2 separate regions of the Homo sapiens genome follow, and region 1 is linked to region 2. The links come from fine-mapping of genetic effects on gene expression. A gene starts in region 2. The other region holds a variant in brackets. All regions are shown on one strand. Distances are from middle to middle.

Region 1 (11,405 bases), 72 kb before region 2:
TCCACACACACATTTATTCATCCCGAAATAAGACTAGATTCAAAGAAGTTTTTACTATGCAGCTGTATAAAAAATATATTATCACTTTTTGCTTAGAGTAAAAGAATATAAAAATTAGTTTTTAAAAAAGATACCTGGGATCAAAAACTTTCCACTCTGATGAAGCATAGTCACATTATGACCATGCTCTTGAAGAATCTGAGACACCCGGTCCAACAGTAGGTAATGGCTTCCACCTAGAAACAATGCACAATGTCTTTTGTAAAGATGAAAATAGAGTTTCTGATGACAATATGGGAGTAGGCAGGAGGGAATGGAAATTCAGCAGAAAAAGCATAGGGAAGAGGAAATGTGAACAGTGAGAAGATGGAGATAAGCGCTTCCTGTTCCTCAATCTCACTTTGGGTAATGCCCAGTACATGCACCCAAAGCCTTCCTGTCCTATGTTCGGGACCTGTGGCAATCCTCCATCAAAGATTTCCGCTTGTGGCTCAAAGACTCCATGTCAGTGTAATGAGCTTCTCTGTGATTACGCCTGTAAAAGTTGCTCATCTTAAGGTATGTGCTGCATGTTACTTGGGGCCTTAGAGAGATATTGTCTCCAAAATATAACTGCAATGATAGAAAATACAGCACAGTAGTGTGTACATTAGTATGAAGGGTTCCTAATGGGCAATCAGTCAGAGCTATCTTTCATCCTATTTTGGAAAAGTATGCTACTGTAGGAGACAGAAATACAGAAGTTACAAGGTGAGTCTAAGAAACTGCCATTGGACAGAAGCTACTACTTAGAGCCCAAATCTTTGTGATTAAAATGTATTTGGCAGGAAATTACTCAATTTGGGCCAATGTACAACTTATAATTAAGATATTTGAGGACAACTGTGGAGCCCTTGGGGTGGGCCTATAGATCCTGGTTGCACCAGAAACTAAAGAATCACTGATTCTAGGAAAATCCTACCATGCTAAGGAAAGAGAAGCTTGGTTCTCAAAAGAGGTAAAAGTTTTATCACGTTAATATCTTCTCTTAGTGCATGTTCCAACACAGACCCTTCACTGGAAGCTAAGGTTCTCAGCAGCAGAAAAAGAAAGATCAGAAGAGAAATTAATGGAAAAATGCCGAGAGTTTGAGGATGGAGGTGGAAGGGGAGTAGAGAAATAGTGCGCAGCTGTCTGAATGACTCACTCTACTTATACTCAGACTTGAATAGTCTAAAGCAACAAGGGATGTATAAAGTACAAATCTGCAACGGTCTTGCTCACATTTTAATCCATGTAAGAACAGGGACTCAGGAAGAAGGGGTCCTCACAGAAACAGCCACTCATAGTGGGTCTTAAGGACTCAAATGGCTTTCTGGGGCAAAGACCTGGATTCCAGCATCTGGATTCAGAAACGACACCAGCTCCCTCTTGAAGTCTGAGGAAGGAGGGCTGTGTACTTCCAAGAAGTTAAGAAGCTCTGTTGCTTCACTGCTACTAACACTCAGAAAGCGGGGAAAAGACTTCAAATGAACTAACACAGTTTCTTAGTGATTGAGGCGGGCGGATCACGAGGTCAGGAGATGGAGACCATCCTGGCTAACACGGTTAAACCCCGTCTCTACTAAAAGAATACAAAAGAATTAGCTGGGCGTGGTGGCGGGCGCCTGTAGTCCCAGCCCAGCTACTCGGGAGGCTGAGGCAGGAGAATGGCGTGAACCCGGGAGGCGGAGCTTGCAGTGAGTTGAGATGGCGCCACTGCACTTCAGCCTGGGCGACAGAGCAAGACTCCGTCTCAAAAAAAAAAAAAAAAAGAAAGAAAATCCTTAGTGAAAACGGCATCAGAGCGGAAGTTGTGGTGAGCGTGGTCTTGGGGTAAGAAACCCTAAACAATTCTTCATGGGACATTAAGGAGGCCACATGTGCTCTTAAGAAAGGCATCTCACTTCCCTGTCCCTCAGTTGCCCTCTCAGAATATCAAAATGGGCACTAAATTAGATGATCCGTGGTTCCTTCCAGCTCTAAGAGCCCTGATTCTCCGTGATCTAAAAGGAATCCTTTAGCGCCCACTACGGATTAAAATAAAGTCTTGGGGAAGATCGATCCTGGGATCGAGCTCATATATAATTCTCTTTCATCTTCTACTTCCTTTGAAATAAAAATAAAATAAAACTGAGGCCCAAAATGCAGAATTAACAGTCCCATGAATCCCTTAAAAACGGTCAGCGGCACAGGTAAAAGGAAGGAGGCTCCAAAAGATCCGAATGACCTGGGTTCTCTCCTCAGACCTGGGCAGTTCTCCAGGTTTCCCCTGGAGAAAAACACTCCGCTGGCATTGCAGTCATGAAATACCTGCCTGCGCCACCCTGGCTCCATATGCAGCTTCACAACATTTGCAGTGCTGCCCTCAGGAGTGCCTTTCCCTGGTCTCCAAGAGGCTGGAAACGGTCACCACCGTTTCTGCTGGAAGCTACTGTGCACCTCCCGGCCCCATGGAGCTTAGGGTGAGCCTCTGAAAGTCCCACTGCGCTCTAGAGAAGGCAGCCCAGGAACTCAAGCTCTGGTCCTGGTCTCAAATTTCTGGCCCCAGTCCTGCGGGACGGGGAGCGCGTCCTGAACAAGAAGAGAGAAGAAAGGAGAGTGTCTTTTCTCAAAAACTGTCTTCCTCACCTCAGCAATAGAGGCCCCTCTCTGCCCCACGGCTAGATGGGCTTCTCCCTCCTCCAGCCAGGTCCGCAAGCCCAGCCTGGAAAATCGCCTGGATAACTCTGATCAATCGCCGTTCGCTGGAGCCCTGGCAGTGCGGGGATCCGGGACGCGCCTGTCTGGGAATTCTCCGGCCAAGCACTCACCCAGTGTAGATATTGTCAGGATTTTGGCAGCCTCTGAGAGCAGGACCCCAGAAAGAAGGAAGGCCACTAGAAGCAGCACCCGCTGCCCAACCATGCTCACTTCCACAGAAGCAGCGGATCTCAGCCTGGGCTGCGCGCCCTGCGCCGGGCTAAGGACTCTGTGCGCGCCTCAGTACTCCAAAGGCACTGGCTGTGGGCCTAGGAAGAGGTAGGAGACGGATCCTGCCAATTCTCTCGCCCTTCTGTTCGTTCTCTTTCCCGCTGCCCCTCCTCCCTGGGTGCATGCTCCATGGGATAATCTGCCCTCACCCTATCAAACTACCTGAAGTCAGTAGGAGGGGGTTGGTAACCTGATCTGTAACCTTTCTCTGCCTGCGTAATCACAGCTGTCCTATCTGGAAAATCCTTACTAAGAGCCAGGAATGACAGGGGCCTCAGTAAATCACGTTAATGAAGGCTCCATCCCCAAGGAAACCACCTGTCTTTCGTGGAGCTGTCTGAACTTATGTTACTCTGCTTCCCTTCCAGCTGCCTCTATTACCTCATAGTGCCATCTCCATGCCCCCATTTTCCCCAGAAACCTGCTGAAAATCTCTAGCTGGTGTCCCAAGCTCAAGATGTCCCTGAGAGGGAATCCCTAAGGGAAACTGATCTACCCTCTCTGAGGGCCTCTTTAGAAGATAACATTCATGAAGAGGAGCTAGTAGTGTTCTAATTCTGAAAGTCACTCCGGGTCTGTACCTGGAGACTGAAATTCGAACACAGAGACTATGATTCTGAATGTGTATCATAAAATAGAACTAGGGATATTTTGATAATCTCCCCAAAGCACAAACTGAGAATAGCTTGTAATTCTGCCCCCTTGAAGGGTCAACCCTGGGAAAGACAGGGATCACTACACCAGGTATGGTCACCTTTGTACTCTCTATCCTCAAACCAAGACTTTCGGAAAGGCTTTCAGTGCAATTCTAGACAGACAGAGAAATCCTTCAATGGATTATATCTACCGGCTGTAATAGGCCCTTGAATTCTGCTTGTACTATTCTTGCCTTCAGTCTACAGGTATTACATTTTTAATCTGAATTTAAAGCATTACATTTTATTTAAAGCATTACATTTGTGCATCCTTCACCTAGACATGTTCATTGTGGAGAGGGAGGAAATGAGAAAGAGAGAGAGCCAGACAGACAGATGCACAAACATACACACACATACACTCACACACACACACACTGGGTTGGGGGAGCGAAAGGGAGAAGGGGAAAGAGAAGTGTGGAGGGGGGAAGGTTTACCAGGCTTCACAAGACTCCAGTCCATCTATTCTTATACCTTTTATAATGCATTAGCAAAATAAAGGACTTGCTATCAAGCTTCAAGCTCTTCATTTATTCAACAATTATTCTGACAGCTAATTATTACACCAGATATGTTTGCTGGACAGACAGAGGCTAAACACAATAAGAAATGAAATACATAATATATTCATGAGAAATGCTGCCAAGAGAAAACAAACAAGGAAAGAGATATGAAAGGTCAGGTATTAGAAGTGTTAACATATTAAATAGTATGATTTAAACCAATTCTAAAAAATTATAGGAGTATGAGAGAAAAATGAGCACAAAACTTGATGATATTAAGTAGTTACTGTTGCTTTGGAGAATTTTATGTTATTATGAAAGGAAATTAAATTTGGGGACACAAAACTCATTTGACCAAAGGGAAAAGTCAAGCTTGGAACTGGGTCACACAAACCTGCGTCTCCCTTTTGGTTCCTAAATAAGATGGCTACAAGATGGAAAGCTACACACCTCCCCCATATGTTGCCCACAAGGAAATTCCTAGTGAGCTCTTAAAATTTCACCGTGGCAATGCAAATTGATAGCTTATTTTTACAGGTGCAGTCACCCCCAGCCCACCAGACATAAATGCATATCTGCCCAATTTTGTCTATGTTATCTTATGTAAAAATGCAGATTCCCTGCATTTTTTTTCTCTGCTCCATTTGTTTTATATCATCTTATATAAAAAATGCAAGGTGGCCAGGCACGGTGGCTCACGCCTGTAATCCCAGCACTTTTGGAGGCCAAGGCGGGTGGATCACAAGGTCAGGAGATTAAGACCATCCTGGCCAACATGGTGAAATCCCGTCTCTCCTAAAAATACAAAAATTAGCTGGGCGTGGTAGCACGTGCCTGTAATCCCAGCTACTCGAGAGGCTGAGGCAGGAGAATCGCTGGAACCCAGGAGGCGGAGGT[T/G]GCAGTGAGCCAAGATCGCGCCACTGCACTCAAGCCTGGTGACAGAGCGAGACTCCGTCTCAAAAAAAAAAAAATGCAGATTCACTGAGCCAGACAAAGGCATGAATGACTATTTTTCCCTACCCACCCCTTACATGAAAATTGTGTACTTCTCAATATCCCACCCTCTCCCCTTTAAATTTAGAACCCTCAAAGTCATCTTTGGAGAAAGGCATAGACCTATCTCCTGGTGCGCGTCCTTAACTTTGGCAAATAAATCTCCTAAAATGATTGAGGCTTGTCTCATCATTTTTCTCTATTGACGTCTAGTAACCATGGAGGGATCCTGAGTGAAAGTGACCCAGCCTGCAGCCTCTCATCTCTCGTGTTTGGTTCCGGCTTGGGCACCTTATAGCCCAAACCAATAGGACAATTTTCTGAAGTCCAGGATCTCTTTCCTCCAGGGATCCCTGATCTTCCAAAGTTTTTCAGGGATCTAGGAGTCTGAGGTTTATATGCTGTTATTAAACAAACAAACAAACAAACAAACAAAAAGCTCCTTTTTTATGGGAGTTTCCACTTGTTTCCTTCAAGGAGGGCGAGCCTATCTGCTTCTGTATCAGGGATCTTGCGGTCTGAGGTTTATTTGCTGTTTAAAAAAAAACTCCTTTTTTGTGGGAGTTTCCACTCATTTCCATCAAGGAAGGTGAGCCTGTCTGCTTTTGTATCAGCAGAAAGCAGACTTCAGCTTGGACCTCCATCACTAGGTAAAGAACAGGTTTGGGATTCTGTCTTACAAATTCTTTTAAATGACTAAAATTAGCATCAACAACCAGCTGGTGTTAATTTCCCACTTACACTTAGAGCACTCAGAAATCATATAATTTGTGTCATTATTGTTAGTTTTGCTTAACGGTTTTGTTGTTTCTAGTTTTGTTTTGTTTTGTTTTGTTTGTGTGTGTGTGTGTGTGTGTGTGTGTGTGTGTGTGTGTGTTTCGGTTCTTTCCCCTATCAGGTTTGACCAACTCCAAACCCTCTAGCTCATGAGGGTGGAATTCTCCACTCTGAAAAACAAATAGGAGCACCTTGCTCCTCTCAGCCTTTTGTGGCATTCTCAGGTGACTGAGAATCACATGAGGGTGATGGAGAGAAGCACTCCCTAAGATGTTCAGTGCCTCTGAATAGGTTTCCCCCTCAGGAGAACATACTTAGGGTCTAATCTCAGCTGACAGGTGCATATAAGGAGCTGACCCCTCCCACACCTTCAGCCCCTGACACATATGCCAGGTAGCCGCAACATGTGTGGACTGAACCAGTTTAGGTTGTGATGGCCCTGAAAAGCTAGGTCTGCAAGCAGCACATTTGGGGTCCAACACACATCCCAACTTGGTGAAATCCAAAAAGGAACTCTAAGTTATGGGGAATAAGGTCTCTAAGACCCCGGAGGAACATAAAGTTCCCCCTTCAGAAACTCCGGATGGGTATTGTGGCAAATAGTCATGCAAATATTTAACCAAGTGGACCACTATAACTAAAGCAGATTCTAAGTTACAATGGCCTAAATGGGGATCTTTTGATATGCCCAAATTAGTGTAACTGTGAACCAGGATGGAAAACGCAGGCACAAAAACTAAACAGCCAGAATGGAGGAGCTACTTTCAATGGTATCTGGAGAGTAGCAAAAGGGAGGAAGACTGAAGGCCAACAAACAACTTAGAAATGCTCATCAAGAACTCTGTAATCTTTTATCTCTCTTAAAGAGCTATTGGCATCTCCCCTACCTCCACCTCCACCCTCACTCTACCCTGACCTCTCTGAACTTCCCAGGTCAGATCTGTTCCCCCCTTCTCCTCCATGTCTACCACTCAACAGTAGTCTGACTTCAAAGACTCCACTCCCTGATGATTCCCTGACAGCCCCAATGGCAGCATCTCATCTGGAAGATGTGAAAATGAGGGACCCTACAGGGACATCTCTCATGATCGCCCCATTTCAGGAACAACCGGTAACAGGTAAGGGATCCCTGCCAATTGTCTACCAACCCTGGTCAAAGGCTGAATTACGAGGCATAGTTAAAGAATTTCCTGACCTCCATAAAGATCCAATTGGTTTTGCCCAAAAATATGAGCTCATTATCAGAACCTATCACCCAGGTCATTCAGACCTTTATCAGCTAGTCTACATGTTGGTCTCAGAAGCTAAAGCTAAGGAATGGCTGGAAAAAGCACAGTGGTCAGACCCTATAGCAGATTTAACCCCTGAAGGCCCAATAGAGCCAACAACCAGCCCCCGAAATCCAGAAGACAGGCATAAAGAGTCACGGGAATGAGTGACTGCTCTGTTAAATATTATTCCTTCAGTGCTCCAAAGGGTTGTGAATTGGAATAAAATCCAACAATGCTGCCAGAACCCAAATGAATCAGTTTTAAATTATTTAACATATTTTGATAAAACTTTAAGTATTGCAGGATGTCAGTTGATTGCTTTGAAAACAATAAAAAATAATACATTATAAAATGCAAATTTCTTAAACAGACTAGATGATGATTTAGCCACCCTTGTAAAATGGCACATGACAAATTGGGCCATGACTAGACTAATGAACTAGTTAACTTAGCTGATCAAATATCCTGCGCTATGACAAAAAAAAAAAAAAAAGGAGAAATAGAAGATTGCCCAGGTTATGCATTTACAGCTAAAGCAATTAACTTCTCAAACCTCTCAGCCCCAGAAAGACTTTAAGCTCTCTCCATCTGAAGACTCTTGCCTCCCAGTCTGTTACTACTGTAAAAGACGAGGATACCTTAAGCGAGGCTGCCTTAGGCTGAAACAAAAGAAAAGGCAGGAGAATGCAACTCAGGAAGACTAGGGATGCTCCGAGAAAGTGCAGGGGTTTCGCTTCTCCAAATATTCTATCCTGACAAACAAATTGGGAGAGATTCATATAATAATAAACCATGAGCTTACAACTACCTTAATTGACACAGGCATGACTATATCTCTGATAAACCCCACCTTATTTAGAAACCTCATTCTTCAGAGTAATAAAATAATTAACATGTTGGGTGTGTCTAATAAAACAATCTCATGTTTTAGGTCAAAACTTGTACCTTATCATTTCAATGGAATCACCCCCTTGACCCAGGCTCTAAGTGTGACACGTTAAGTAGGTCCCATATATTTCTAATATGCCCTGGGGCCCCTGTCAATCTTTTGGTCTGTGATCTCCTCAACATCCATAATGCCCATATCTCTTTTTCATCAAAAGGTGAACTTTTTTAAGAATTGGAGTCAGGGGACCAAAAATACCAAATTAAAAACTGTCCTGACAATGTACCACAATTTAGCACCAATAATGTTAAAACATCATCTTGTGACAAGGAAAGTGAAGTGGAGCAGAGAAGGAAATATTAGGGGAGAAGAAAGAACATTGGAATAAAGAGAAGAAAGCAGTAAAACTCCTTTTAGCTTCCCCAATCTTCCTGTTAACAACAGAAGCAGAGCACTTGCTAAAGGATGTCCCATCCCACTTATGGTCTCAGTCAAATACAGATATAGGGAATATATTCTCAGCCATTCCAATAAAGGTAGAGAAAAACCCAAAGAAACCCCTACTCAATCTTAATATCCTCTATGACAGGGAGCCATAGATGAAACTGTCCCTACCACACAAGATTATCTGAAAAAGGGGCTCATTATTTCCTGCACAAGCCTCTGCAATAGCCCTATATTCCCTGTCAAGAAACCAAGCAGGAGAAGATGGAGTCTTGTGCAGGATGCTAGGGCAATAAACAATGTCATAATACCCAGACACCCAGCAGTCCCCAACCCACACACCCTTCTATCAACTGTACTCACACAGCCAGTATTTCTCAGTTGTGGGTCTCTGCAGTGCCTTCTTTAGTATTCCTGTAGGTCCAGACAGCCAATATTTGGATATTTGCCTTTACTTGGAAAGAACAACAATACACATGGACAGTAATGCCCCAAGAGTATACAGAAAGTCTCACTTACTTTTCCCAAATATTAAAAGCTGATTTAGAGGATTTAATTTTTTTTTTTTTTGAGACGGAATCTCACTCTGTCACCCAAGCTGGAGTGCAATGGTGGATCTCGCCTCACTGCAACCTCCGCCTCCCAGGTTCAAGTGATTCTCCTACTTCAGCCTCCAGAGTAGCTGGGATTACAGGCGCCTGCCATTATGCCTGGCTAACTTTTGTATTTTTAGTAGAGGCAAGGTTTCACCATGTTGGCCAGGCAGGTCTCAAACTCCTGACCTCGTGATCCACCCACCTCGGCCTCCCAAAGTGCTGGGATTACAGGCATGAGCCACAGCACCCAGCCAGAGGATTTAATTTTTACCCAGGGCTCAACACTCATCCAGTATGTGCATGATCTTCTCCTTTGTTCAGACACACTGTCTTCCTCTCAAGAAGATAGTCTATATTTACTCAAACAGTTAGCCATCAAGGGACACAAAGTGTCCAAAGACAAACTTCAGCTATATTTACTGAGACTTAAGTATTAGGGGCATATTATCTCTGTCAAAGGACTGAGTATTAACCCTGACAGTGTAAGAGGAATTTCAGCTTTCCCCATGCCTGTCACTAAGAAACAACTTAGAGGATTTTGGGGCCTGGCAGGCTATTACAGAAACTGGATACCAACTTTCTCCCTTATGGCTCAACCTCTGTATGCCTACCTAAAAAAATGAACAACCTGATCCCATCATGTGGACTCCAGAGGGACAATCAGCTGTACAACAAATAAAGGAAATTCTAACTGATGCCTCAGCTTTAGAAAACCCAAACTACAAATTTCCTTTCTCCCTTTTTGCACACGAAATTGTGGGTACTGCATTTGGAGTACTGACCCAGAAACATGGTGATTATCAGAGACCTATTGGCAATTGTAGCCAACAGCTGGACGCTGTGGCTCAAGGGCTGCCTCCTTGTATGACAGCAATCACAGCAATTGCCCTTCTGTACAAGTCTGTTGAAGAAATTATTATGGGTTACCCCCTTACCATTTTTGTGCTGCATTCTCTGGATACCCTTCTAAACTGTCATCATACTCAAGATCTGTCAGCTGGTCAGCCTCTTATAAATTTTGGCTTTTATTATCTCCCAATATAACTATTTCCCACTACAGTGATCTTAATCCAGCCACTCTCTTGCTGGGACTTTTCGACAAAATCCCTCATGACTATGTTGTAATGATTGACTGACTTGTTACCCCCAGGGCAGACCTACAATAGATGCCACTGGATAAAGCCAAAATAGAATGGTATACAGGTGGATCTTATTTAAGAGGAGAGGATGGAAATTTTAGAGCAGGATATGCTGTGGTTTCCTTATGGAGGTAATTGAAGCCGGTCCTCTTCCCTAAGCCAGATCAGCTCAAGTGGAGTTGCCAAATTGATTGCCCTAACTGACTTGAGCTTGTCAACTGGCAAAAGAGAAGGCTTCAAACATTTACATTGACAGATTTTGGGGTTGCTCATGACTTTGGGATGCTATGGAAAGAGAGAGAATATTTAACCTCCTCAAAGCAACCCATAAAAAATGTACAATAGGCCGAGCGCGGTGGCTCACGCCTGTAATCCCAGCACTTTCGGAGGCCAAGGTAGGCAGATCAGGAGGTCAGGAGATTGAGACCACCCCGGCTAACATGGAGAAACCCCGTCTCTACTAAAAATACAAAAAAGTTAGCCGGGCATGGTGGCCGGCGCCTGTATTCCCAGCTACTCGGGAGGCTGAGGCAGGAGAATGGCATGAATCCAGGAGGCGGAGCTTGCAGTGAGCCGAGATCACACCACTGCACTCCAGCCTGGGCCACAGAGAGAGACTCCATCTCAAAAAAAAAAAAAAAAATGTACAATAAGTGTCAGAGCTGTTAGGAGTTATTCTAAAACCAAAACGTTTGGCAATTATAAAAATCCCAGGTCACTCAAAACTAGACTCCACAGAATCAGGGTAACCAATTGGCTGATGCCACAGCTGAAAGAGCAGCATTCAAGCCACCAGCACCAATCCAGGAAATGCCCATAAAACCTGAAACACTTAAAAACATGTTGAAAGAAACTGAGAGCACAGCTCCATCAAAGGAGAAATCCACTTGGAAACAAGCAGGGGAATACTTGACTCCCGAAACTAAAATATAGTGTGGACCTAATAATAAATCCATTATTCCAATGGCATATCAGGTGCCCTTATGGAATATATTCATAATCAAACCCATTGGAATCCAGATAAAATGAAACCCTGGTGTAAAAAAATATTACTGGAAACCGTCCTTCATGGTGGCAAATAGTTTACTCTTGATGTGACATTTGTCCCAA
Region 2 (11,405 bases):
GACTCATGGATTCCAATCACAGGCCTGGTTCCCCCAGTACAAGCCATGAGCCAGTTGAATCTGAATGTGAAGATGGAATGAGGACCAACTGGAGTCACACTCACATCAACCCCCATGACATGCAGACAGATCAAGAAAACCACACAGGAAGCTGAGAAACTGTTAGAGCATCAGGGTCAGGCAAAGACCCCTGACTCCATGTTTGTGGCCATGCTGGCCATGGTTTCCTGTGCATCTGTAAGATAAGCTGGACCACCAACCAGCAATTGAGGGCTGCACAGCCAGTAATTGCCTTTCTCAAATTAATTCAAAAACAAAAAGGGAGAAATGTTGGAGGCCAAAAGAGTGAGGGTTGTGATCAACTCAGTATACCACTGGAGGCTATATGAGTAAACAGCAGACTGTTTCTCATAAAATGCAGAATGTTGGCAAACTGACAAACTGCGTCTGCCACCCAGAAGGAATGCTGAGGGCAGTCACGCCCCAAGTGCAATATTTCTTACGATTAGGCAAATCTGAAGCCTGTTAGTAATAATATGAACCTGTGATCAATCAAGCAGCTGACCAATCGTTACCTCCTCCTCCCTGCTCATTCTACCCAATAAAAAGGGTTGTGGAAGCTCAGCGGCTGCCTTTGCTCACTAGAAGCGGGGAGCTCTTTTCTTCTTCCCCTGGCCCCTTTACAACCGTTTCTTTTAAGTTTTCATTTTTACGTTCGTCATCCTTCGTTCAGTCTCGTAATGATGGTCTCAAGTAGTAACAGTAATAACTGTCCTAGTGATGGTTTCAAGAAGTAATAGTGGCTGTCAGCCACAGGGAGTCACTGTTTAATAAGTAGAGTTCCACTTCACGATGATGAAAAACTTCTGAAAATTTCAGAGATGGTCCTACAACAATGTGAATGTCCTTAAAGCCTCTAAACGGTACATTGGAAATGGGGCCAGGTGCGGTGGCTCACACCTGTAATCCCAGCACTTTGGAAGGCCAAGGCAGGCAGATCACCTGAGATTAGGAGTTCAAGACCGGCCTGGCGAACATGGCAAAACCCTGTCTCTACTAAAAATACAAAAAAATTAGCCAGGCGTGGTGCCCCACGCCTAATAGCACGCACCTGTAGTCCCAGTTATTTGGTAGGCTAAGGTACCAGAATCGCTTGAACCTAGGTAACGGAGGTTGCAGTGAGCCAAGATCACACCACTGCACTCCAACCTGGGAGACAGAGGAAGACTCTGACTCAATTAAAAAACATGGCTAAAATGGTAGATTATGTTATATATATTTTACCACAATGAAATTTTAAATTTTATTATTATTATTATTATACTTTAAGTTTTAGGGTACATGTGCACATTGTGCAGGTTAGTTACATACGTACACATGTGCCATGCTGGTGCACTGCACCCAGTAACTCGTCATCTAGCATTAGGTATATCTCCCAATGCTATCCCTCCCCCCTCCCCCCACCCCACAACAGTCCCCAGAGTGTGATGTTCCCCTTCCTGTGTCCATGTGATCTCATTGTTCAATTCCCACCTATAAGTGAGAATATGCGGTGTTTGGTTTTTTGTTCTTGTGATAGTTTACTGAGGATGATGATTTCCAATTTCATCCATGTCCCTACAAAGGACATGAACTCATCATTTTTTATGGCTGCATAGTATTCCATGGTGTATATGTGCCACATTTTCTTAATCCAGTCTATCATTGTTGGACATTTGGGTTGGTTCCAAGTCTTTGCTATTGTGAATAATGCTGCAATAAACATACATGTGCATGTGTCTTTATAGCAGCATGATTTATAGTCCTTTGGGTATACACCCAGTAATGGGATGGCTGGGTCAAATGGTATTTCTAGTTCTAGATCCCTGATGAATCGCCACACTGACTTCCACAGTGGTTGAACTAGTTTACAGTCCCACCAACAGTGTAAAAGTGTTCCTATTTCTCCACATCCTCTCCAGCACCTGTTGTTTCCTGACTTTTTAATGATTGCCATTCTAACTGGTGTGAGATTGGTATCTCATTGTGGTTTTGATTTGCATTTCTCTGATGGCCAGTGACGATGAGCATTTTTTCATGTGTTTTTTGGCTGCATAAATGTCTTCTTTTGAGAAGTGTCTGTTCATGTCCTTCACCCACTTTTTGATGGGGTTGTTTGTTTTTTTCTTGTAAATTTGTTTGAGTTCACTGTAGATTCTGGATATTAGCCCTTTGTCAGATGAGTAGGTTGCGAAAATTTTCTCCCATTTTGTAGGTTGCCTGTTCACTCTGATGGTAGTTTCTTTTGCTGTGCAGAAGCTCTTTAGTTTAATTAGATCCCATTTGTCAATTTTGGCTTTTGTTGCCATTGCTTTTGGTGTTTTAGACATGAAGTCCTTGCCCATGCCTATGTCCTGAATGGTAATGCCTAGGTTTTCTTCTAGGGTTTTAATGGTTTTAAGTCTAACGTTTAAGTCTTTAATCCATCTTGAATTGATTTTTGTATAAGGTGTAAGGAAGGGATCCAGTTTCAGCTTTCTACGTATGGCTAGCCAGTTTTCCCAGCACCATTTATTAAATAGGGAATCCTTTCCCCATTGCTTGTTTTTCTCAGGTTTGTCAAAGATCAGATAGTTGTAGATATGCGGCGTTATTTCTGAGGGCTCTGTTCTGTTCCATTGATCTATATCTCTGTTTTGGTACCAGTACCATGCTGTTTTGTTTACTGTAGTCTTGTAGTATAGTTTGAAGTCAGGTAGTGTGATGCCTCCAGCTTTGTTCTTTTGGCTTAGGATTGACTTGGCAAAATTTAAATGAGAAAATGTAGATTAAAAAATGGTTTTGGCTGGATGCAGTGGTTCACACCTGTAATCCCAGCACTTTGGGAGGCCAAGGCAGGAGGATTACCTGAGGTCAGGAGTTCGAGACTAGCCTGGCCAACATGGTGAAACCCCATCTCTACTAAAAATACAAAAAATTAGCCGAGCATGGTGGTACACACCTGTAATGTCAGCTACTCAGGAGGCTGAGGCAGGAGAATTGCTTGAGCCCAGGAGATGGAAGTTGCAGTGAGCCAAGATCATGCCACTGTACTCCAGCCTGGCCAACAGAGCGAGACTCTGTCTCAAAAAAAAAAAAATGGTTTTAGAAATCTGAACAATGACAAGGCCTGATATTATCTTCAAAGGTTGAAAATATCTCAGAATTTTCTCCCTCCAAGATGCTTGCTTTTGGATTTTTTTTCTTTTTTAAAATTATAGCTTCAGGGGGTGCATGTCCAGGTGTATTGCATGATGATGGAGTTTGGGCTTTTCCCTGAGCAACACTTTCATATTGAGCAATTTGGAGCATAAAGTCCTAAATCCACCCAACTCTGTTATCAAGCAAATCTGTTAAGTTCTCAGGGTTTCTGTTTCCTTGTGGATCAACAGAAGTGTTGATAAGATTTATGAGCTTCATTTTGGCTAAAATTCTTTGGACTCAATGACTCCATTAAGAACATCTGAAATCACTATGCACAAACTCGTGGGCAGCCACTTATTTTTCAAGAATGCAAGACCATCTCAGCCATAGACTCCTAACTTAGCTGCATAAATAAGGGTCTCCCTGCAAAAGCTTACTTAAATTCCGATATCATAAAAAGAGGAAAAGTAATCTATAAAAAGAACAGTGATTCTTACATGTAAGAAGTGTTAAATAAGGCTGAATATTTCTGTTCTATCTATATACAGAGAGTCTTTGAGGTGGAGTCTCACTCTGTTGCCCAGGCTCTAGTGCAGTGGTGCATTCCCAGCTCACTGCAACTTCTGCCTCCTGGCTCAAGCGATCCTCCACCCTCAGCCTCCCAAGTAGCTGAAACTACAAGTGGGTGCCACCATGTCAAGCTAATTTTTGTATTTTTTGTAGAGACAGAGTGTCCCTATGTTGCTCAGGCTGGTCTCAAACTCCTGGGTTCAAGTGATCCACCTGTCTCAGCCTCCTAAAGTGCTGGGATTACAGGTGTGAGCCACCTTGCCCCACCATGTTTAATATATTTTTTAAGCCATCTTATAAAGTAGTATTTGTTAAAATAATCCATAATAATGAGTGGATGGTTGCTTGGGATGGAGTAGAAGTCAAGTAAGGGGAAAAAAAAATATGGGAGTATGGAACGTCAGGTCCCGGTAATTAGAGACTAAGAAGTTTTTTGGCACTTTACATACACACACACACAAGCTTTTCATCCTTCCAATTGAATTAGATTTTTAAAAAACATTTTGCTAAGCCTTTCTATGCAAACAGCATTTTGCTCTTTGCTTGGAGTAGGAGAAATCAAGAAAAGTGAGAAAAGATACCTGGCATAAAAGGACCTCTTTTGTGGTTAAGCATGGTGACATTATGACCGTGATCTTGAAGAATCTGAGAAACCCGGTCCATCAGTAGATAATGGCTTCCACCTAGGAACAATGCACAACTTCAGTTCTGGAATGATGAGAATACAGTGTCTGAAGTCAGTAGTGATCAATCCAGGAGAGGAAAGGTAAGGAAACAGAAGTGGATAGTGATTGGAGGAAGATGAGTTTTGCCAGTCTCCTCATGTCCCTCTGGGTAAAACCCAGCCCACTCACCCAGAGCATGGCCGCCCAAATTTTTACCTGTGGCTCTGGTCCGTGAGAGATTGCCTCTTGTGAATCACGGTATCCATGTCAGTGTAATGAGCTACTATGTGCTTAGCCATGGGAGTTCCTCATCCTGAGGTACATGTATATTTTAACTAAGGCCTTATGGAGACACAGAGTCCAAAAGAAATCACGGCACTGGTGGAAATACAGGTATGGTGTTGTACATATGAGTGTGAATAGTTCCTAAAAAACAATGAGAGCTGTTTCTGGGATCCTGCTCTTTGGACATTTCTGCTGCTGTAGGAGATAGAAACCTTAAGAGATTGGTCCAAGAAATCATCACTGGAACAGAAGGAATGAGGGGCCACTACTTAGAATCCAAATCCTTAAGATTCCAATGTATTTTGAAAGGATGTACTTAATTTAGGCCACACAATGATCAAGTTCTAATTAAGACATTTGAGGACAACTGTGGGGCGCTTGGGGTGGGCCTGCTGGATCCTGGTTGCACGAGAGACTAGGGAATCATTGATTCCAGAAACATCCATCCTAAGGAAAGAGAAGCTTGATCCTCAAAAGAGGTACAAGTTCCACGAAATCAATGTCTTCTCAGTACATGTTCTAATACACAGCCTTTGCTTGAATCTAAGGTTCTCAGCAGCAGAGAAAGGAAGATCAGAAGAGAAGGTAATGTAATAGTAAATACCAAAAGCCTGCGGGGTGGGGGTGGAAGGGAGTAGAGAAGTAGTGTTCAGCTCTCTGAATGACTCAGTTTACTTATACCCAGGCTTGAATAGTCTGGAGCAACAAGGGACGTATAAAGTACAAATCTGCAACAGGTCTTGCTCACATTTTAATCCACGTAAGAACAGGGAGCTGGGAAGAAGGGGTCCCCACAGAAACAGCTGTTAGCGGTGGATCTTGGGGAGTCAGGTGGCTTTCTGGGGCAAAAATCAGCATTCTAGCACCTCAGAAATGACATCAACTCCTTCTTGGAGCCTGAGGAAGGAGGGCTGTGTACTTTCAAGAAGTTAAGAAGCTCTGTTGCTTCACTGCTACTAACACTCAGAAAGAGGGGGAAAAAGTCTTCAAATGGACTTGCACTGTTTCTTAAACAGTGATTTTTGAAAATCCCCAGTGAAAAGGGCTTCAGAGTGGAAGTTGTGGTGAGCATGGTCTTGCAGTAAGAAAACCCTGAGTTAATTCCTCATGGGACATCAGGGAGGCCACAAGTGCTCTTAAGGAAGGCATCTCACTCCCCATCCTTCAATTGCCCTCTCAGGAAATGAAAATGGGCACTAAATTAGATGATCTGTGGTTCTTCCCAGCCCTACGAGCCCTAATTCTCCATGATCTAAAAGGAATCCATTAGAACCCACTATGGGTTGAAATAAAGTCTTGGGGAAGCTCGATCCTGAGATGATCCCTTTATGTTCATATATGTTTCTCTTTTATCTTCTATTCCCTTTGGGGTAAAAGTAAAAGAAGTAAAACTGAGACCCAAAATGCAGAATTAACAGTCCCATGAATCCCTCAAATAACGGTCAGCGGCACAGGTAAAAGGAAAGATACTCCAAAAGATGCGAATGACCTGGATCTTCTCCTCAGCCCTCGGCAGTTCTCCAGGTTTCCCCTGGTGGAAAACACTCCACTGGCATTGCAGCCATGAAATACCTGCCTGCGCCACCCTGGCTCCGGATGCAGCTTCACAACATTTGCAGTGCTGCCCTCAGGAGGGCCTTTCCCTGGTCTCCAAGAGCCTGAAAACGCTCACCACTGTTTCTACTGGAAGCTACTGTGCACCCACACACACGCACCCTCCGGAGCTTAAGGTGAGCCTCTGAAAGTCCCACTGCGCCCTGGAGAAGGCAGCCCAGGAACTCAAGCTCTGGGATGAGTCTCAAATTTCTGGCCCCAGCCCTGCGGGATGGGGGCGCGTCCTGAACAGGAAGAAGACAGTAAAGGAGAATCTCTTTTCTCCAAAACTTTCTTCCCCACCTCAGCAATAGAGGCCCCTCTCTGCCCCACAGCTGAATGGGCTTCTCCCTCCTCCAGCCGGGTCCGCAAGCCCAGCCTGGAAAATCACGTGGATGACTCTGATCAAGCGCTGTTCTCTGGAGCCCTGGCAGTGCGAGTATCCGGGACGCGCCTGTCTGGGAATTCTCCGGCCAAGCACTCACCTACTGTAGATATTGTCAGGATTTTGGCAGCCTCTGAGAGCAGGACCCCAGGGAGAAGGAAGCCCACTAGAAGAAGCACTCGCTGCCCAGCCATGCTCACTTCTACGGAAGCCGCGGATCTCAGCCTGGGCTGCGCGCCCTGCGCCCGGCTAAGGGACCCTGTGCACCTCAGTGCGCCAAAGGCACTGGCTGTGGGTAGAGGTAGGAGTAAGGATCCTGCCAGTCTTCTCTTCTGTCCATCCCCTCTTGCCCTCTGCCCCTCCTCCCTCGTGCTCCATTGGATAATCTATCCTCGCTCTACCAAACTACCAGCAGTCAGTAGGAGGGGTCGGTGAGCCCATACTTAACCCTGCTCTGCCCTTGTGATCACAGCCCTCCTGCCTGGAAAATCCTTACTGTGAGTGAGGAATGGCAGGGACCTCAGTAAATCGAGCTGATGAAAGCTCTATCTCCATGGGACCCACCTCTCTTTTGCAAAGGCTGTGTGAATTTACCTACTCTAGTTCCCTTCTAACTGCCTCTATTACCTCATACTGCCAGCCCCGCGATCTATTTCCTGAGAGACTTGCTTAAAATCTTGAGCTGATGTTCCAAGCCCAAGACCTCCCTGGAAGGGAATCCCCAAGGGAAATCAATCTACCATCCCTGGAATCTATCTCTTAGTGTCTCTTTAGAAGGTAACATTCCTGAAAAGAGGCTAGAGTCCTACCTCTGGAAGTCCAGGTCTGTCCCTGGAGGACTGAAATTCAAAAGCTGAGACTATCATTCTGAATGAGTATCCTGAAATAGGACTGGTGAATCTTTCCATAATTTCCAAGAGCACATGCTGATGACAGCTTGTAATTCTGCCTCCGTGCAATGTCAGCCCCAGTGAGGTCAGGGATCACCAGGTCCGGTAGTCCCCTTTACTCTCTATCCTCAAACTAAGACTTCCTTTAGGAAAGGCTTTCAGTGCAACTCTAAATAAGCAGAGAAATCCTTGGTTGCAGTGGGTCCTTGAATTCTGCGTGTTCTATTCCTGCCTTCTTCAGTCTACAGGGGTTATTTTTTCTCATTGGAATTTAAAGCATTACATTCTTATGCATTTGTGCATCCCTCACCTAGCCATGCCTATTGTGGAGAAAGAGGAGAGAGAGAGAGAGAGAGAGAGAGAGAGAGAGAGAGAGAGAGAGAGAAAAGTGTGGGAAGGGCGAGGTTTACCAGACATCACAAGGCTCCAGTTCGTCTTATTCTTGTACTTTTCATAATGCATTAGCAAAATAAAGGATTTGTTATCAAACTCCAAGATTTTTATTTATTCAACAATTATATTGATAGATTTTTTTTTTTTTTGAGACAGAGTCTCGCTCTGTCACCCAGGCTAGAGTGCAGTGGTGCACTCTCAGCTTACTGCAACCTCTGCCTCCCAAGTTTAAGCAATTCTTCTGTCTCAGCCTCCCGAGTAGCTGGGATTACAGGTGCCTGCCACCACACCCGGCTGATTTTTGTATTTTTTAGTAGAGACTGGGTTTCACCATGTTGGCCAGGCTGGTCTTGAACTCCTGACCTCACATGATCCACCCGCCTTGGCCTCCCAAAATGCTGTGATTACAGGCATGAGCCACCACGCCTGGCTGATAGCTATTTATTATGCCAGGCATTGTTCTGCCAGGCAAACTGATACTAAACACACTAAGAAATAAAATATATAGTACATTAATGGCAAATGTTACTAAGAAAAATCAAATGGAAAGAGATATGAAGAGTCAGGTATCAGATTCGTTAACGTTTTACATAGCATGATTCCAATGGACTCTAAAATATTATAGGAGTATCAGAGATATATGAACCCAAATTTTGAAAATATTAACTAGTTATTGTTGCTTTGGAGAAGAGTTCTATGTAATTGTGGTTATAAACATCTTATAAAGAAATTCTGGCTGGGTGCAGTGGTTCATGCTATAACCCCAGCACTTTGGTAGGTGAGGTGGGGGGAACACGAAGTCAGGAGTTCAAGGCCATCCTGGCCAATATAGTGAAGCCCCGTCTCTACTAAAAATGCAAAAATTAGCCAGGCATGGTGGCATGTGCCTGTGGTCCCAGCTACCCGGGAGGCCGAGGTGGGAGAATCGCTTGAACCCAGGAAATGGAGGTTGCAGTGAGCCGAGATCGCAGCACTGCACTCCAGCTTAGGAAACATAGTGAGACTTTGTCAAAAAAGAAGGGAGGAAGGAAGGGAGGAAGGGAGGGAGGGAGGGAGGGAGGGAAGGAAGGAAGGAAGGAAGGAAGGAAGGAAGGAAGGAAGGAAATTGGCTCTTAAGGTACATTCTGAAACATTTACAGATTCTGTCTTATGATTTCTCAGATTTGCTTCAAAATAATAGGTTGTGGGGGTAAACAAGGTTAAATGTGGGTGGCAGGATAAGAAAAGAGAATTGCCAGGAGTTAGTAATCACTGGAGCTAAATCCTGAGCATAAAGAAGTTCTACTTTTGTGAATGTTTGAAATTTTTCATTAAGATGTTTTTATAGCTCTTCCACTATAATTCTATTTTTCCTTGGTGTTATAGCAATTTTTCCTGTATACACATAAGGCTACTCATTAAATGCATATATATGAACAATTATAGTTTCAGGTATTATACCTTCCAGGGAAACAGTTAGTCCTCGTTTTATAATGAGGACCTATTTTGTCTCTGGTAACACTTTTCACCCAAAGTCTATTTTGTTTGCCATTACTACTAACCATTCAGATTTTATCTTCCATTGTGGAAAAAGATCTATCTTTTCCTATCCTTTCATGTTCAACCCTCCTGTATCCTCATATTTTAGGTGTGTCTCTTGAAACAGCAATCAGCTTGAAATTTTTATTCAAGTCTGTCAATCTTGTATTTCAGTCCGAATGCATGTGTTTAAATCTACCAGGTTGCTATTTCTCCCACTTATTCTGTTACATTTCCTCTACTTTTTGGCTTTCTTTGAAGACTTTAGTATTTTAGACCACTAATTCCCTTCATATAACTTGGAGCGGGGGTGGTGCTCCATCTCACTGGAGTCAGACAAACTGATAACCCATTCACAGTGAACCTGCTTCCTATGTACAATATTTCCAGACTCATTAGGTCTCCATAAAGGCTTGCAGCAGGAGTTGAGGAGATAGCTTTGCTACAATCTGGTGTCTTCTTTTCTACTTATGGGAAGCTATGGGTTCTGTGGGTGTTATGTGATCTTCTTGTTTATGTTTATATTACATGCAGCATTTAATTACATGCAGATTGTGGAGGCCCCAGAAGGGGAAACTCCCTATGATGTACTCTCTTTACTCTATCCCGATACCAACCTATGCATTTTCTAAACCTTAATGCCAGTCAAAAGCAAAGAGTGTCATAGGCGTCACAAAGGAACAGTACACATGAATACCCAGATTAATTCTAGCACCTATTAGTAAAGCCTAAAGTCTCCATTCTCCTGTACATGTGGAGACATTTTGATGTGGATACATACCTCCTACTCATTAGTACAAAATCCTTTGCACAGAGAACTTCAGAAACATACAGACTGAAAAAAGAGTCCATTTGCAAATTTTCTACAGAACCCAAATAAAGTGGGTTTCATCCTCCTTATACGACTTAAGGTTTAGTGCCAACTGGTTTGTAGCAATGGTCCCTCAAGGGATAACACACAGTCCTGTCTGTGCTGTCCTTGGAACCACAGCTACAATTGCATTCCACCTTCTCATCTACATGGATCTGGGGCTCCATGATTGAAATCATCTGCTCTGGCTGCCTACCTTGTGGTCCCCATCACACTTAGAAAGTCACTGAAGGCTGGGTGCAGTGGCTCACACCTGTAATCCCAACACTTTGGGAGGCCTAGGTGGGCAGATCACCTGAGTTCAGGAGTTCAAGACCAGCGTGGCCAACATGATGAAACCCCATCTCTACTAAAAATACAAAAAAATTAGCCAGGTGTGGTGGTAGATGCCTGTAATCCCAGCTACTCAGGAGGCTGAGGCAGGAGAATCACTTGAACCTGGGAGGGGGAGGTTACAGTGAGCTGAGATCGTGCCACTTTCACTCTAGCCTGGGCAACAGAGCGAGACTCCATCTCAATTAAAAAAAAAAAAAAAAAAGGAAAGTCATTAAAGCAAACTCAGTGCTTCCTCAGGTCCAGCCAGAGACTGTAACCAGGAAACAGAAGTGTTTCTTTATCAGCATGCCCATGATAGCTTGCTGCTTAAGTGCATGAATATAGGTCAAGGCTAAATAGCAAAATATTCTGGTTCAGCAGGTCAAGCATTCTGGAGGATTTTTGGCCACTTTTCTCTTTCTTCAGACCCCACAGGTTAGCTAACCCTCCACCCACTTCCCGCTGCCTTCACCCTGGCCAGGTGCCAGTGCAGACTTACCCCATTCCCCGATAGCCTTGAGTAGCCAGATGACAGAATTCTGGGCAATTAGGACAGAAATCTCTTGGCCAATCGTTTAGTGAGGTTGTGGAAAGATAATGCTGTAAACTTTTATTTTTCAGGAAATCTGGAAACCTACAGTCTCCATGCCTGCTCAGCAAAGAAGGAGCTCACTGTGGGCACCAGAGACAGGGACCCAATGTGGAGACCCACGAGCCTGTGTCCAGCCTTGTACTCTCAAGCACAGGGCAGGCTTCCT

Direction of the effects. Positions count from the first base shown, and alleles are read on the strand shown. Sizes are in standard deviations (SD) of each study's normalised expression.
In carriers of allele G in region 1, the expression in sun-exposed skin of the gene that starts at base 6,947 in region 2 tends to be lower than with T alone (small effect, 0.19 SD a copy in GTEx).

What was found. PIP is the estimated chance that this variant, and not a neighbour inherited with it, causes the effect. A credible set is the group of variants that fine-mapping cannot tell apart.
Region 1: its variant is the best candidate, but not a certain one, in a credible set for the expression of UGT3A2 in sun-exposed skin (GTEx, PIP 0.62).

Annotation. Positions count from the first base shown.
Region 1 is chr5:35,988,316-35,999,720 of GRCh38, forward strand. It overlaps UGT3A1 (UDP glycosyltransferase family 3 member A1), which reads right to left and starts at 3,075. Exons shown (of 7, transcript NM_152404.4): 1 at 2,832-3,075; 2 at 135-236. The coding sequence starts at 2,925. The variant T/G (reference allele first, on the strand shown) is at 5,087.
Region 2 is chr5:36,059,936-36,071,340 of GRCh38, forward strand. It overlaps UGT3A2 (UDP glycosyltransferase family 3 member A2), which reads right to left and starts at 6,947. Exons shown (of 7, transcript NM_174914.4): 1 at 6,761-6,947; 2 at 4,314-4,415. The coding sequence starts at 6,854. RefSeq lists an enhancer at 10-510.